2 linked regions of the Homo sapiens genome follow. The protein of the gene in region 1 interacts with the protein of each later gene in a pairwise test. Each region holds a gene or a part of one and is shown in the gene's direction. Other genes may lie near its edges.

Evidence for each region. Proteins that work in one complex are often made in the same cells at the same time.
Region 2: the proteins of ITPRIP (region 1) and RASSF3 interact in binary tests that used the Homo sapiens proteins (3 or more experiments, as listed by UniProt).

Annotation. Positions count from the first base shown.
Region 1 is NC_000010.11:104,314,386-104,321,468, reverse strand, and holds part of ITPRIP (inositol 1,4,5-trisphosphate receptor-interacting protein precursor), read left to right. Parts: intron 1-5,404; coding exon of another isoform or gene 5,405-5,417; coding exon 5,418-7,061; 3' UTR 7,062-7,083. UniProt on the Homo sapiens protein: Enhances Ca(2+)-mediated inhibition of inositol 1,4,5-triphosphate receptor (ITPR) Ca(2+) release.
Region 2 is NC_000012.12:64,606,043-64,613,494, forward strand, and holds the start of RASSF3 (ras association domain-containing protein 3), read left to right. Parts: upstream 1-4,452; 5' UTR 4,453-4,590; coding exon 4,591-4,701; exon of another isoform or gene 4,702-4,804; coding exon of another isoform or gene 4,805-4,879; intron 4,880-7,452.

The DNA of each region.
Region 1 (7,083 bases):
GTCTGAATAAACCACTGGTCCCAGCCAGCCACCTGCAGCCCTCTGTCCGGGCCACCCAGAAGCTTCCATCTTCCCTCAGCCCCTGTTGCCCCGTGACTCCAGCGTTGCCAGGCTAAGTTTAGCTGTGAACTGCATGGGCCGCCCCTCTCTGTGGACAAGGGCAGAGGTGGAGAGGAATTCAGCAGGCTTCCTGGCAAGCAGACAGAAAAAAGCCCGCCAAGTGACCCAGGTTTATTCTCAAAGCCAAACCCACCAGCTGATGTCTCAGACCACAGGTGCGGGAGAGCCTGGTAGAGGTGAGAACTTTGGGCCAAGGCAGAGGTGGACATCCTTGGAATTGGGAGTAGGGGACTCTTTGGGGAGGCATGTGCTGGTATGTGCAAGAACATGCACACATATACACATATCCATGGTTTGTGAGAGGCTCCTCACTACCCGTCCTGTCTCAGAATGTCAGAATGCCCTGTTTCCTTCCCTTTTGTGGACAAGTCAACTCTATACAATATTTGAAGGGATTTATTCTGAACCCATCTGAATGACCAAGGCCTGAGGCACAGTCCCAAGAGATCCTGAAAATATGTGCCCCAGACAGTTGGGTTACAGCTTGATGTTACACATTTTAGGGGGACAGAAGTTACAGGCAGGCCAGGTGCTCACACCTGTAATCCCAGCACTTGTGATCCCAGGCAGATCACTTGAGGTCAGGAGTTCGAGACCAGCCTGGCCAACATGGTGAAAACCTGTCTCTACTAGAAATATAAAAATTAGCCGGGCATGGTGGGGCATGCCTGTAGTCCCAGCTACTCAGGAGGCTGAGGCAGGAGAATTGCTTGAACCTGGGAGGCAGAGGTTGCAGTAAGCTGAGATCCCTCCACTGCACTCTAGCCCAGGCGACAGAGTGAGACTTAGTCTCAAAAAAAAAAAAAAAAAAAATTACAGGCAGACCTCCATCAATGCATGTGTAAGGAATATGTTAGTTTGGTGTGGAAAGATGGGACAACTTGAAGTGAGGGCAAGGAGTGGCTTCCTGGTCATAGGTGGATTCAAAGATTTTCTGACTGGCAATTGGTTGAACGAGTTAAGTTATTATCTAAAGACCTGGAATCAGTAGAAAGGAGTGTCTAGGATAAGGGGTATGGAGACCATGGTTCTTACTATGTAGCTGAAGTCCCAGGAAGCGAGTTTCAGAGACAGGAGATGGTAAGTGTCTGTCAAACCTAAAAAGGTGCCAGACCCTTAGTTCATCTCTCCTGGATCAGGAAGAGGCCTGGAAAGGGAAGGAAATTCTGTACAGAATGTAGATCAGACTCTTAGTTCATCTCTCCTGGATCAGGAGAGACCTGGAAAGGGAAGGAGATTCTGTACAGAATGTAGATTTTCCTGACAATAGGCAGCTTTGCAGGGCCATTTCAAAATATGTCAAAGAAATATATTTTGGGGTAAAATACTTTGATTTCTTTCAGGGCCTGCTATCTCATATGATGCTATATTGGGTTGAAATTCGGTATCTTATTGCTACAGAGTCTGTTTTGTCACTCCTAGGATCTCTGTTTTAACGTTAATGCTGTTCAGTTGTGCCTGAATTCCAGAGGGAGGAGGGTATAATGGGGTTTGTCGGCTCCTCCTTCCCATCATGGCATGAACTGGTTTTTAAGGTTTATTTTGGAATCCTCTTGGCCTGCAGGACATTCTTCTGACCCCTGGGGTCCCCAGGGCAGTGTTTCCTGTGACTGGGTTTGGGAAGGGGAAGTACCAGAGGCTTCAAACTGAACCCCATCTGGTGGGCCCTGAGCGACCACAGCCCTATTATCTGCCTCGGCCTGTCCTATCCCATAGGGTGCTGCAGACAGAGCCAGCCTGTGCAGAGTTTAACAGGGAGCCAAATGACAGCTGGGATCCGATCCGGGGAAGCGGGGAGATGGATTACGTGAGAAAGTGAGTCAGAGGGAACCCCTGACCTGCAGGAGGATCCCAGGCTCTGAAGCCTTCTCCCCTTTGCTGGGGGCCAGGGTGGACTCAGGGGTGTGCCAAGGAGGAGAAATAGCAGTGGAACATCTTGTGCTTTCAGAGCACTTTCGAGCGTGTGTTTACTCCCCATGCCTGGGGCTCAGGCAGGGCTGCTGTGCTCAGCAGGTGAGAAAGCAGAAGCCTGTAGATGCTGAGGAGAGGAGCCTGCCCTGTGCCAGGCACGGTGCTAAGCACCCAAGGTGTATGATCTCACTCACCCGTCCCAACATCCCTGTGAAGGAGGAAGTGTTATTAATTCCTCCTCACAGGGAAAGCGTGGGAGCGCAGAAGCTGTGCGATCCACCCACAGTCACTCAAGGTTAGAACACAGGTCTGCTGGGTCTACAGCCCAGGCCCCCTTTCCTTGCAGTCCTTCCCCAGGCTGGTGCCCTGTTTCCCTGGTGCTTCTGTTGAGTCTTGTCTGTAATCCTACAATTACCAGTGCTACTATGCACTGCCTACATCCTGCCAGAGTTCCTTGTAGGGGCGTCTGCGGCGCACTCCGCCCTGAACCCCAGCAGGCAGGGTCATCTGCGTATTTCCATCCCATCGCAGTTCCTTTCATAAGAAAACTTGCTCAGGAGCAAGCATGTTGCTGAGTGCTTTACATGCATTATCTTGTTCAAGCTTTATAACAGTAGATATGATTATTCTCATTTTACAGATGAAGAAACTGAGGTTCTGGGAAGTGATTTCTCCGAAGTCACCTCCAGTAGGTGCACATACTGGGTTCTGACCCAGTCTTGTCTCCTCTCGAGTCTATCCTCTTTTCCTCTTGCACACAGAGTTGGTCCCTTCAGTTGGTTTGGAGTTCTGAACCTTGCCTGTGCCAGTACAAGGAGGCTCTTACAGCTCCTCCTCCTCTGGCAGGAATGAGGATGTAGCAAGTAGCACCATGAAGTGTGGCGTAGACACAGGGATGGTTCCCAGCCATAGGGCTTGGCCGTGGCCCCACTCACCTGTTCGTGGCATCCTGCACTGAGTTGACAAGGAACCTGGGTAGGTGGTTGTCCGGGCTATTACTGTGACTGGTCAAGGCCCACTGTGTCCAAAGGTGGCTGCCTGTGATCCAGGCAGCTTGAAGGACCCTAAAACCCCCCAAATTATCTCCTAACTGGCTGCTGCCTGATATTCTGCTATGAGTACTCTCCACCTTTATGTTAACTTTCTCACCCATGTTAATCACCCAGCCTCGCAGTTAGTTATGCCTTGGACCCTCCCTGGCAAAACTTTCCGTTGATGTTTCTCTAATGTAGAAACCAGGCTGACCTGTTTCTGCCATTATCCAGCAAGCTGCTCCTTGGCTTGGGGAAGGAAAGCTGGCTCGCTGCCCCCTGCACTTTTTCCTTACCCCACCCACCTTGCAGTGTGACTTCTTCCACTTCATCCTGTCCCCGCTTTCCTCCTCCAGTGGAAACCTGTAAGTGCTTCAGTGCTCACCTCTGAGGCCCACACTGAGAATCCTCAGGGTGGAGGACGGACCTTCTCCACTCCCCAACCCTTGTGGTTCCTGCAGACCTGTCCAGCTGTGTATGGGGTGGAACTGTCTGAGTCACATCTGAGCAGCAAGTTTGTCTAGGCGTGACCAGCAGCCAACTCAGTCCATCTCCATCCTGCCACTTGCCAGGGACAACCTGCAGAGGTATCTTTACCTGGGGACAAATCCCTGTTCCTTGGCACCATTAGGACAAGAATTTCATTGTGCAAATTCCAGGTCGGGCTCAAGCCAAAGGGAATGGGGCTCAGGTTGGCACAGTAGCTCCTATCAGCCAGTGTTAGTGTGCACTAGGGGGTGGTAGAAGGAGCCCTGTGCTCTCAACAATCTCAGGACCTCAACTGATTTGCATTTGGCCATTTGCTTCCTTCATCGAGGTCCCAAGCAAGGAGGGGGGTAGTTCAAGTGTGGAAATAGCAGATTGTTAAGTCCCAGGATTCCTGCTGAGGAGAGGAGAGGGTGTAACTAAGTCTTGCAGCGTAAGACAGTGCCTCTCAGATTTTTATATGGATGGTATTAAAATGTGGATTCCGATTCAGTAAGTGTGGGTGGGGCCGAGATTCTGCATTTCTAACAAGCTCCCAGGAGATACTGCAGCTGCTGGTCCGTGAATCATACTTCGAATTGCAAAGATTGTAGGGATTAGCCTTTCTCCAAAAGTCACTTGAGGCTTAAAAATCCACTTATCCTAGGGGAACAGAGTGCCTCCTTTCACAATTAAGAAGTTAGATTTAAAGTTCACATGCCTGGTAAGAAGAAATTAGTGATTCTTTGCTCTCTGGTCATCATCAAGATTGTCCTGGGGAAAGACAAAAGCCAGGAGAGTGTGTCTGAATATGGGGTAAGGTCTTCCAGGTCAGAAAGAGACGTTTACAGAAGAGGAGGATAAGGGCTCAAATCTACTTCCGAAACAGTTATTGTTCAGTGAATATGTGCTTTGCACTGGTCACTGGGCCATGCAGTTTGCAGGGATCATTGCGTCTCTCAATACCATGACCCTGTGAGATACTATTGCTTTCCCCTTGTGCAGTAAGGAAACCAGGGCTCAGAGAGGTGTGTTAACATGCCCAGGGTCACACAGCTTTTCAGTTGACAGTGCTGGTTTGGAACCTAGCCCTTTCTCCCTTAACCACTAGGCTTCACTGTATTGCAGGAAGATGACATTCACTTGGGAGAGAAGGGGATATGTTATTCAGGACTATTTTGATTTCAAGTGGTGGAAAGGCCACTCAAACTGACTTAAAAAGGGTTTCTTTATTGACTTGTGTGACTAAAGAGCTCAGACAGCAATGCCTTCAAGCAGAGCTGAGTGTGGGGAGGGGGGGTTCTGCTTTCCTCTATGTTGGTGTCTTTCTCAGGCGGGCTCCCTTCCCGAGAGCCCACTGCAGGTATAATCCTGTTCCCTCAGCAACCTAGCAACCAAACTAGCAACAGGATGAGTCTTTCTTCCTATTGGGCCCAACACACCCTACATCTGTCTCTCATTGGCCCGAATTGGATCAAATGCTCATCCCAGAACCAATCGCTCTAGCTGTAGCTGGGCGGCAGAATGTCTGATTGTCTTGGGCCTGGGTTTTGAGCCCACCCCAGGAGCTTGGAGGTGGGTATATCCTCGCCCTGGCCATAAGGACTGGTAGGAGAAAAGGGTTAGGGACAGTGGGGTGCTGCTGCCATCCAGGAATGTCTGGGTAGGACTAAAACAGATGTCCACCCCAGGGTAGGCCTTTGGGGCTCTTCCATGGCTGGACTGAAGCTCCTGAGGCAGCCGCAGGGAGCTCTCGATGGGTTGGGTGGGAGAACTAAGACCTTAACCAGCCCTGAGGGGCTGAGGTTGGTGCGGGGCCCAGGGACGAAGTGGCATTGAGGGAAGCTTGGTGTGACCATCTGTCTCTCTGTTCCCAGGAAAGCTCCAACCATGGCCATGGGGCTCTTCCGCGTGTGTCTGGTGGTGGTGACGGCCATCATCAACCACCCGCTGCTGTTCCCGCGGGAGAACGCCACAGTCCCCGAGAACGAGGAGGAGATCATCCGCAAGATGCAGGCGCACCAGGAGAAGCTGCAGCTGGAGCAGTTGCGCCTGGAGGAGGAGGTGGCTCGGCTGGCGGCCGAAAAGGAGGCACTGGAGCAGGTGGCGGAGGAGGGCAGGCAGCAGAACGAGACACGCGTGGCCTGGGACCTCTGGAGCACCCTCTGCATGATCCTCTTCCTGATGATCGAGGTGTGGCGGCAGGACCACCAGGAGGGGCCCTCACCTGAGTGCCTGGGCGGTGAGGAGGATGAGCTGCCTGGGCTGGGGGGCGCCCCCTTGCAGGGCCTCACCCTGCCCAACAAGGCCACGCTTGGCCACTTTTATGAGCGCTGCATCCGGGGGGCCACGGCCGATGCAGCCCGTACCCGGGAGTTCCTGGAAGGCTTCGTGGATGACTTGCTGGAAGCCCTGAGGAGCCTCTGCAACCGGGACACCGACATGGAGGTGGAGGACTTCATTGGCGTGGACAGCATGTACGAGAACTGGCAGGTGGACAGGCCACTGCTGTGCCACCTTTTCGTGCCCTTCACACCCCCCGAGCCCTACCGCTTCCACCCAGAGCTCTGGTGCTCCGGCCGCTCAGTGCCCCTGGATCGCCAGGGCTACGGCCAGATCAAGGTGGTCCGCGCCGATGGGGACACATTGAGCTGCATCTGCGGCAAGACCAAGCTCGGGGAAGACATGCTGTGTCTCCTGCACGGCAGGAACAGCATGGCGCCTCCCTGCGGCGACATGGAGAACCTGCTGTGTGCCACAGATTCCCTGTACCTGGACACGATGCAGGTCATGAAGTGGTTCCAGACGGCCCTCACCAGAGCCTGGAAGGGCATCGCCCACAAGTACGAGTTCGACCTGGCCTTTGGCCAGCTGGACAGCCCGGGGTCCCTGAAGATCAAGTTCCGTTCAGGGAAGTTCATGCCCTTCAACCTGATTCCTGTGATCCAGTGTGATGACTCGGACCTGTACTTTGTCTCCCACCTTCCCAGGGAGCCCTCTGAGGGCACCCCAGCCTCCAGCACAGACTGGCTCCTGTCCTTTGCTGTCTATGAGCGACACTTCCTCAGGACGACACTAAAGGCACTGCCCGAGGGCGCCTGCCACCTCAGCTGCCTGCAGATAGCATCCTTCCTGCTCTCCAAGCAGAGCCGCCTGACCGGTCCCAGCGGGCTCAGCAGCTACCACCTGAAGACGGCCCTACTGCACCTCCTACTCCTCCGGCAGGCCGCCGACTGGAAGGCGGGGCAGCTGGACGCTCGTCTGCACGAGTTGCTGTGCTTCCTGGAGAAGAGCTTGCTCCAGAAGAAGCTCCACCACTTCTTCATCGGCAACCGCAAGGTGCCTGAGGCCATGGGACTCCCTGAGGCCGTGCTCAGGGCCGAGCCCCTCAACCTCTTCCGGCCCTTCGTCCTGCAGCGAAGCCTTTACCGTAAGACACTGGACTCCTTCTATGAGATGCTCAAGAATGCCCCAGCGCTCATTAGCGAGTATTCCCTACATGTCCCCTCAGACCAGCCTACCCCAAAAAGCTGACGTCTTTTACAGAATGTGGGAT
Region 2 (7,452 bases), on another chromosome or scaffold:
TACAGAATTCCTAGGTACCATATGCAAGCATGCAAGATCCAGAGGAAGAAGACATAGTCTTTTTTTGTAGGTTTCTTTTAAAAGTGAGGAACATCTTCCTAAAAGGCACCAAGCCAGGTTTCCTTCTGGTCTCAGTGGTCAGGTCTGTGAGACCTGTCCATGCCTAAAGCAATCCCTGGCAAGGGGAATGGGACCACTACGACTGACTCTGCACGTCAGGCCTTACCCCTGTGAGCTGAGATTGGACTTCTTTTCCCGAGGGGATTCTTGAATTAAAGTCCTTGTTTAGTTAACAAGAAAGAAGTGAGTGATGAATGTTAAGTATGCAATAAGGTCTAATATTTGGGGCAAGAAAGATGAATATTTGCTTGATCCTATTCTATGCCAAGGACTTTGCCTGGATTCTTTCACTTAATCCTTACAGTAAACCAAAGAAAATAAAATGAAGACATTGTCATCCCCATTTTGCTGCTGATGAACCTGAGGCATAGAGAAGTTAATTAAATTGTTAAAGGTCACATAAGAGTCAGTGATAGCCAAGGCAGGCAGATCACCTGAGGTCAGGAGTTTGAGACCAGCCTGGCCAACATGGTGAAACCCTGTCTCTACTAAAAATACAAAAATTGGCCGGGTGAGGCGGTGCGTGCCTGTAATCCTAGCTACTCGGGAGGCTGAGGCGGGAGGATCGCTTGAACCCGGGAGGCAGAGGTTGCAGTGAGCTGAGATCATAGCACTGCACTCCAGCCTGGGTGACAGAGTGAGACTGCGTCTCAAAAAAACAAAACAAAACTTGAACTTGGTTGCATACATTTAATTTTATTTATTCCACCCCCTTCCCTGAATTTGAAATGTTAAAAGTGTCTAGTTGCTTAACATGACATTTTGAATTTTTACAGATACAATTTTCATGAGCTAAATTTTAAATTCACAATATTTTAATTAAAAATGCTACCAGGCTAGGCATGGTGGCTCACACCTGTAATCCCAGCCTTTTTGGAGGCCGAGGTGGGAGGATCACTTGAGCCTAAGAGTTCATCAAGACCAGCCTGGGCAACATAGTGAGATCTTGTCTCTACAAAAAAAATATAAAAATTAGCCAGGCCTGGTGGCATATGCCTGTAGTCCCAGCTACTCGGGAGGCTGAGGTGGGAGGATTGCTTGAGCTTGGGAAGTCGAGGCTGCAGTGAGCCAACATGGCACCACTGCACTCCAGCAACAAAGTGAGGCCCTGTCTCAAAAAAAAAAAAAGCTACCAGAAAAATATGCAAATATCATTATGCTGCTTTTAGGAAACAAAATCACAATTCTTCCTTCCTTTATTTATTTATTTATTTATTTATTTTCTGAGGCAGAGTCTCCCTGTGTCGCCCAGGATAGAGTGCAGTGGCGTGATCTTGGCTCACTGCAACCTCTGCCTCCAGGGCTCAGGTGACTCTCCTGCCTCAGCCTCCCGAATAGCTGGGACAACAGGCATGTGCCATCATGCCCAGCTAATTTTTTTATATATTTTCAGTAGAGATGGGGGTTTCACCATGTTGGTCAGGCTGGTCTTGAACTCCTGACCTCAAGTGATCTGCCGGCCTCAGCCTCCCAAAATGCTGGCATTACAGGCGTGAGCCACCTCACTCGGCCCTTTCCTTTATTTATGTTTTTTTTGTTGCTTAAAAGCAGTGCTTCCATTTCATTATTTGATCATGGCTTTTAAAATTATTTTATTTATTTATTTTTTTAAGAGACAGACTCTTACTCTGTTACCCAGGCTAGAGTGCAGTGGTAAGATCATAGTTCATTACAGCCTCAAACTTCTGGGCTCAAGTGATCCTTCCACCTAGCCTCCTGAGTAGCTGGGACCACTAGCATGTGACACCACATTGGCTAATTTTTTTTTGTTTTTTGTTTTTGTTTTTGTAGAGACAGGGTCTCATTTTGTTGCCCAGGCTGGTCTTGAACTCCTGGCTTCAAGCAATCCTCCCACCTCGGCCTTCCAAAGTGCTGGGATTACAGGCGTAAACCACCATGCCTGGCCTAATCATGCCTTTATAAAAAAATCATTTTTTTTTAGAGAAAAGGTCTCACTATGTTGGTCAGGCTGGATAGGAACTCCTGAGTTCAAGTGATCCTCCACCTCAGCTTCCCCCTGTGCCCCACTCAATCATGCCTTTTTATTATAACTGATTCTGATGGTATGCTGACAGATATACAAATTAATCCAGTCCTTTGGAGCTTAAAAATAATACAATGAAAAAAATCATTTTTATGGTGTGGTGCATCATAAAGTTTATTTATTTATTTATTGAGACGAAGTTTTGCTCTTGTCGCCCAGACTGGAGTGCAATGGCGCCACCTCGGGTCACTGCAACCTAGGCCACTCCGGGTTCAAGCGATTCTCCTGCCTCAGCCTCCCGAGTAGCTGGCGCACGCTACCACGCCCAACTAATTTTTGTAGTTTTAGTAGAGGCGGGGTTTCACCACGTTGGCCAGGCTGGTTTCCAACTCCTGACCTCAAGTGATCCACCCGCCTCTGCCTCCTCAGGCGTGAGCCATCGCGCCCGGCCAATAAAGCATTTTAATGCATTTTTCCTCAAAGTATTCATAAACTTCAACTTGTTCTAGGTAAAATTATTTTCCCCTTTCTACCCACAATAAAATGAGTAATTTAAGCCCTTAACCTACACATTATTCTTACCTTGGAATATTTAATAAGAGCTGCGCTAATATTATATCTGAATAATGAAATAAGAGAAACCAAATAAGAAAAATTTGTCATAAAGCCCTATTCTCCTACATTAGATTATGTGCATGGCACACACACGGATCAGCTTAAGCTGGGTGAAACTATATGGAGTTAGAATTCCTGGCTTCCTATCATTCAGTAGCTGTGTGGCCGAGAAGAAGACTTTAATGTTGTAGGACCTTTAAAATGGGCTGTAACTCAAAGGCCCTCCTTCTGGAGTTGTTGTGAATCACGTGGGGTAATATATACTAGTTTACAAGATGGATGTGTAAGCCCGAAGGTGGAGCAGGTTTGCAAGCCTTCTTTCAGCCTAGGGACAGTAGGATGACTCATGAGTCAATTCTTCTCTCCTTCCCGTCATTTCGGGTCCAACTCTTCCTCCTGTAGTCCACAAAAGAGCACGGCTGACCGATACCAAGCAGAGAACCCAGTAGGGTATGTGACCACGTTCAGATCAACAGAACGCAAAGCAGAACGGTCCGAGTACTGCCTCCTACAGCCACTTTCCTTTCTTTAAGCCTCAGCTGCTGCTCTAGGTGTAAAACCGGCATAAAATAGCACTACGTACCTTGCAGAGTTGCTCGGAGGATTGAAGGAGATAATGTAAGAGAGTTTGGCTAGTTTGGCTATGATGGATGGACATTTTCTCTTTTCTAACGTCTCTCTTCCCCTCCTAATGAAACCTCTTCTGAAGCTCGCTAACTATAGCAGGGCTTGCAGCTTCAAAAAAACCTTTCAGTCAAGATCTTGAAATTAGTATTATTTAAATCAGTGCAGTAACACCAAGGTGTAAAAGACTGTTACCCACTGGTGGCTTTAAGAGGATTAGCTGACTGAAGAGTTTTAGAAAACATGGAAACTTTTTTTGTACGTGGATGGATGGAATTCCCTGATCTCCTTATCCCCACCACTTAAACCATGCCTTGTGGGTGACCGTGGAAGGCTGATTGTGGCGGGGACATTTACAAAGCACATTTAATTGATAAGCACTCGATTGTTCTGTAACTATAGAACTAGTTCACCTTTCAGTTGCACTGAGTGCGCCTAAGATAACGATCTTATTTGGAAGTGAGCCCTCGCTAGAAAGAAGGGGAAAAGGGTAAGACCGAAGCTCAAATGAATGACCAGAAAGGATGTTTTCATTCGAATAAACTCAACCCAGTTTTTGACCTCCCCACCCATCTCTGCCAACTTGAAATCCTCCTGGAGGGGCGAGCTGCTGGGGTTCAGGACTGGGCGTTGCGGCTGCAGGAAGCCGTGGGACCTGGGGGGTCCCTCGGCCGGGCAACCCCCACCCACCCCTACAGGACCCTGGTGCGGGGGCGAGCAGGGAGTGGACGCAGAGAAAGTTCCCCGCTCTGCTCCCGCCCTCTCCGAAACTCGAGCCAGCGAGGCTGGGGGCGGGCGGACGGCTCGCAGAGGAATTTGCAGTTTCCGGGAGGTTGAGGAAGCGACCCGAGCACAGCCCCAGCAGACGCAGCCCTAGCGCCCGGCTTTCCGGGTTCCGCGACGCTGTCGGGAGAAACCCGCGCGCCTGGAAGGGGCGGGCCGGGCTCCCCCCACCTGCGGGCGGGCGGGGAGGGTCGCGGCCGCGCGGGGTGGGGCTCGGCCGGTCGCCCGTCCGGGGCGGGGCCCAGGGAGGCGGGGTCGCGGGCGCACCGGGGCCGAGCCGCGCCTGGAGCCTGGCGGGGAGGCGGCAGGAGGGGCCGGGAGAGCCTGATTGAGCGGCGGCCGCAGCTGCATAAGGACTGCCCGGGGCTGCGCGCCGGGAACCTCGCGGGGCTGGCGGGCGCCGCACCCCCTCCCTGGCCGCCTGCGCCCCGGGGAGGCCGCCCGCGCGCGACGGGACCGGCAGCATGAGCAGCGGCTACAGCAGCCTGGAGGAGGACGCCGAGGACTTCTTCTTCACCGCCAGGACCTCCTTCTTCAGGAGAGCGCCCCAGGGCAAGCCCCGCTCCGGCCAACAAGTGAGTGGCGCGCGGCGGGCGCTGCAGCCCGCGCCCCAGAGTTCCGGGGAACCCGCCAGCCCGCGCCCCCTGCCTCCACGTGTCTCTGCGGGGCGCTCGGGGGATGCTCGCCGGGAAGGAGGAGCGGGCCGAGAAGTGGCTTCTGCCTTTTCGGGTCCCGGGAACGTGCCTGGAGCTTGTGCGTGTAGGCGAGGGAAGGCGGAGGAAGGGCGGGGAGGCTGAGGGCCGGCTTCTGCCTTCCGCGCCAGATGGCCTCTGCAGCTCCGCCTCGGGCTGCCGCCTGCGGGGAGCAGCCCCGGAGCCAGCAGGCGTCCCCGGGCCACTCCCCCAGGTTTCCCCTTCGCGTCCCCGCTGGGTCGACGGTCGGGTTCGCGCGCCTGTCCTTCCTGTTAGTCAGCTTACTCATCTGTGGCCCCCAGAGTGGCTTGGGTCAACGTGTAATAGCTAGGGGTGGCCGGGTGACCTGACCTCCCCTCTTCCTGGCCCGGGCGACCTGGTGGAGTGGGGGTCCAAGGGCACCGTGGGCCTCGCCACCATAGGCTCTCACTAAATCTCCGTTGCGGGACTCAGGGTTGTGCGTTTTCTGTAAAGCTAGGTTTTTTGGTGCCCAGATGTTTTGCAAACAAGCTCCTATGCTAAATACTAGCCAGCGACAGCTAACCTTTTCGCCGGTTTCTTCCTTTTTTGGAGGCAGCATGCCGTGGGAAGCACGAGTTGGGAAAAGATGGGAAGGGAACTTGTGCCAGTTTCGCCAGCTGTAGCCGTGTTTTTTGGGAGGCCTTCCCGAAACGGGGCACGTCGGCTGGACTGAGGAGCCCGGTGCTAGAGCCCGCGGCCTCCTGGCACTAGGAGCCGCACCAGGGGAGCCGGGCCAACCCGGCCACGCTCACATCAGATTACAGAAGATTGTAATGGCACAAATTTGTTGCTTTTAGAAAACAGGCGTTCGCCAAACATTTCTATTAATACCGGACTGAGACCTAGAGACTAGAAGCAAGAAGAATCGTTCAGGGGCCGGATGATAACTTCTTTTGGTGGATGTGGGAGGGTGCAATCTGTCAGGGTGGTCTTGCCAGACCTCTTAAGTTTAGCCACTTTCTGAAGTAAAATTCTTTCTAAAATTCGGAAGTTCTAGTCTTTTCAGGCTCTTAAGTCCCAAACCAGGAGGAGGAGAGGAGACGGTGAAGGGTAAGCTGAAGTCAAGTGCCCTTATTCAGTAACCGCAGTTAATCTCAAGTCCCGGTGCCATAGTTGTCCGTCTTGTATTGTTTCTAAGGCTTAAGGCCCCACTATTTACGAGTCACTTTGAGTGGGATCTCTTACTTTCAGCAGAGTGTGTTCTGAGAGCATGAGATTGCTGTGAAGTTTGGAAGTTGGAAACGCCCTCTCCTCCCCCATGCCCACCCTCCCTGGGTTGTAGAAAAATTGCATTTGCTTATGCTTTTTCCATTTTTGCTTTCTCTTTCTTGGCCTCTCTCTTCCCCTTCTCCGTTTTGCATTTTCTCCTTTCATTTATGTTGCTTTCACCACTTGACATGAAAAGGAACTCATGGTAGTTTGAAGTTTATTCCAGAGGTGTCTGCTAATCTCCTGAAAACTGGCTGGTTCTTGGATTCTCCAGGGGTGAGATGCCACAAGGGCCAAACTATTCAGGTTTGAATTGTATGAGAATCCTTTAGTGCTTTAAAGAGTAAAGACATCAGTTTTTTTCTAGGTTTATATGCATTTAGCGTTTCTTTTTTTTTTTTTTTTTTTGAGATGGAGTCTCACTGTGTTACCCAGGCTGGAGTGCAGTCGTGTGATCTCACTGCAACCTCAGCTTCCCTGGTTCAAGCGATTCCCTTGCCTCAGCTTCCCGAGTAGCTGAGATTACAGGCATGCACCACCACATCTGGCTCATTTTTGTATTTTTAGTAGAGATGGGATTTAACCATGTTGGCCAGGCTGGTCTCGAACTCCTGGCCTCAGGTAATCTGCCCGCCTTGGCCTCCCAAAGTGCAGGGATTACAGATGTGAGCCACCGCCCCCGGCACATTTATTGTTTCTATGTTGTATGCAATCATTTATGTATCATCTAGCATATATATTATACTCAGGGTAGTATTATTTAGCATTTAGAATTAGTCTAACATTAATATGTATTTTGAAATATCGTGTTGGAAATCAGGACAGGAAGACATAGTTCGTGGTTGAAGAGCTTCATATGTGTATTTGAAGCTTTATTGCCTGCATATTTTTCCCTTCTAACATAACACATGTAAGGTGCTGAGTTGTAGAAGTTATTTGCCAGGCAGAGAAAGTGTTCTAAACTACGAATTTTAGTGAGCATTGTGGTTTATTTAAAGAAGTGATATGAATGTTTTAAATTCCTGGTAAGATTGGTGAATTAGGGAAGTAAAACATCATAAATATAAAGCAAAACACTCTTAATGTAGAATGTTCCTTTTATCTAACGTTAGATAAGCCTTTTTCTTCATTTTCATGCTGATGATTATAAGAATAAGATAAGCACTTCTGACATACATCATAGTAGTGAAATTTATCCTTTCTCTAGAGAGATGGAAAGAGAGGTATTGCTAGAAGGATCTATTAGAGATACAGTGATTTTTTTTTTTTTTGGATGCTGTACCACCTGGTGGAAAAGTGAGAAAAATGAGGTTTCTAGATTTCTTGAAAATATCCGGAGAAAACAAGATGTTTGTGGTAAATGCAGAATGGGGAGAAAGGGGTGAGGGAGCGGGTGGACTGGAA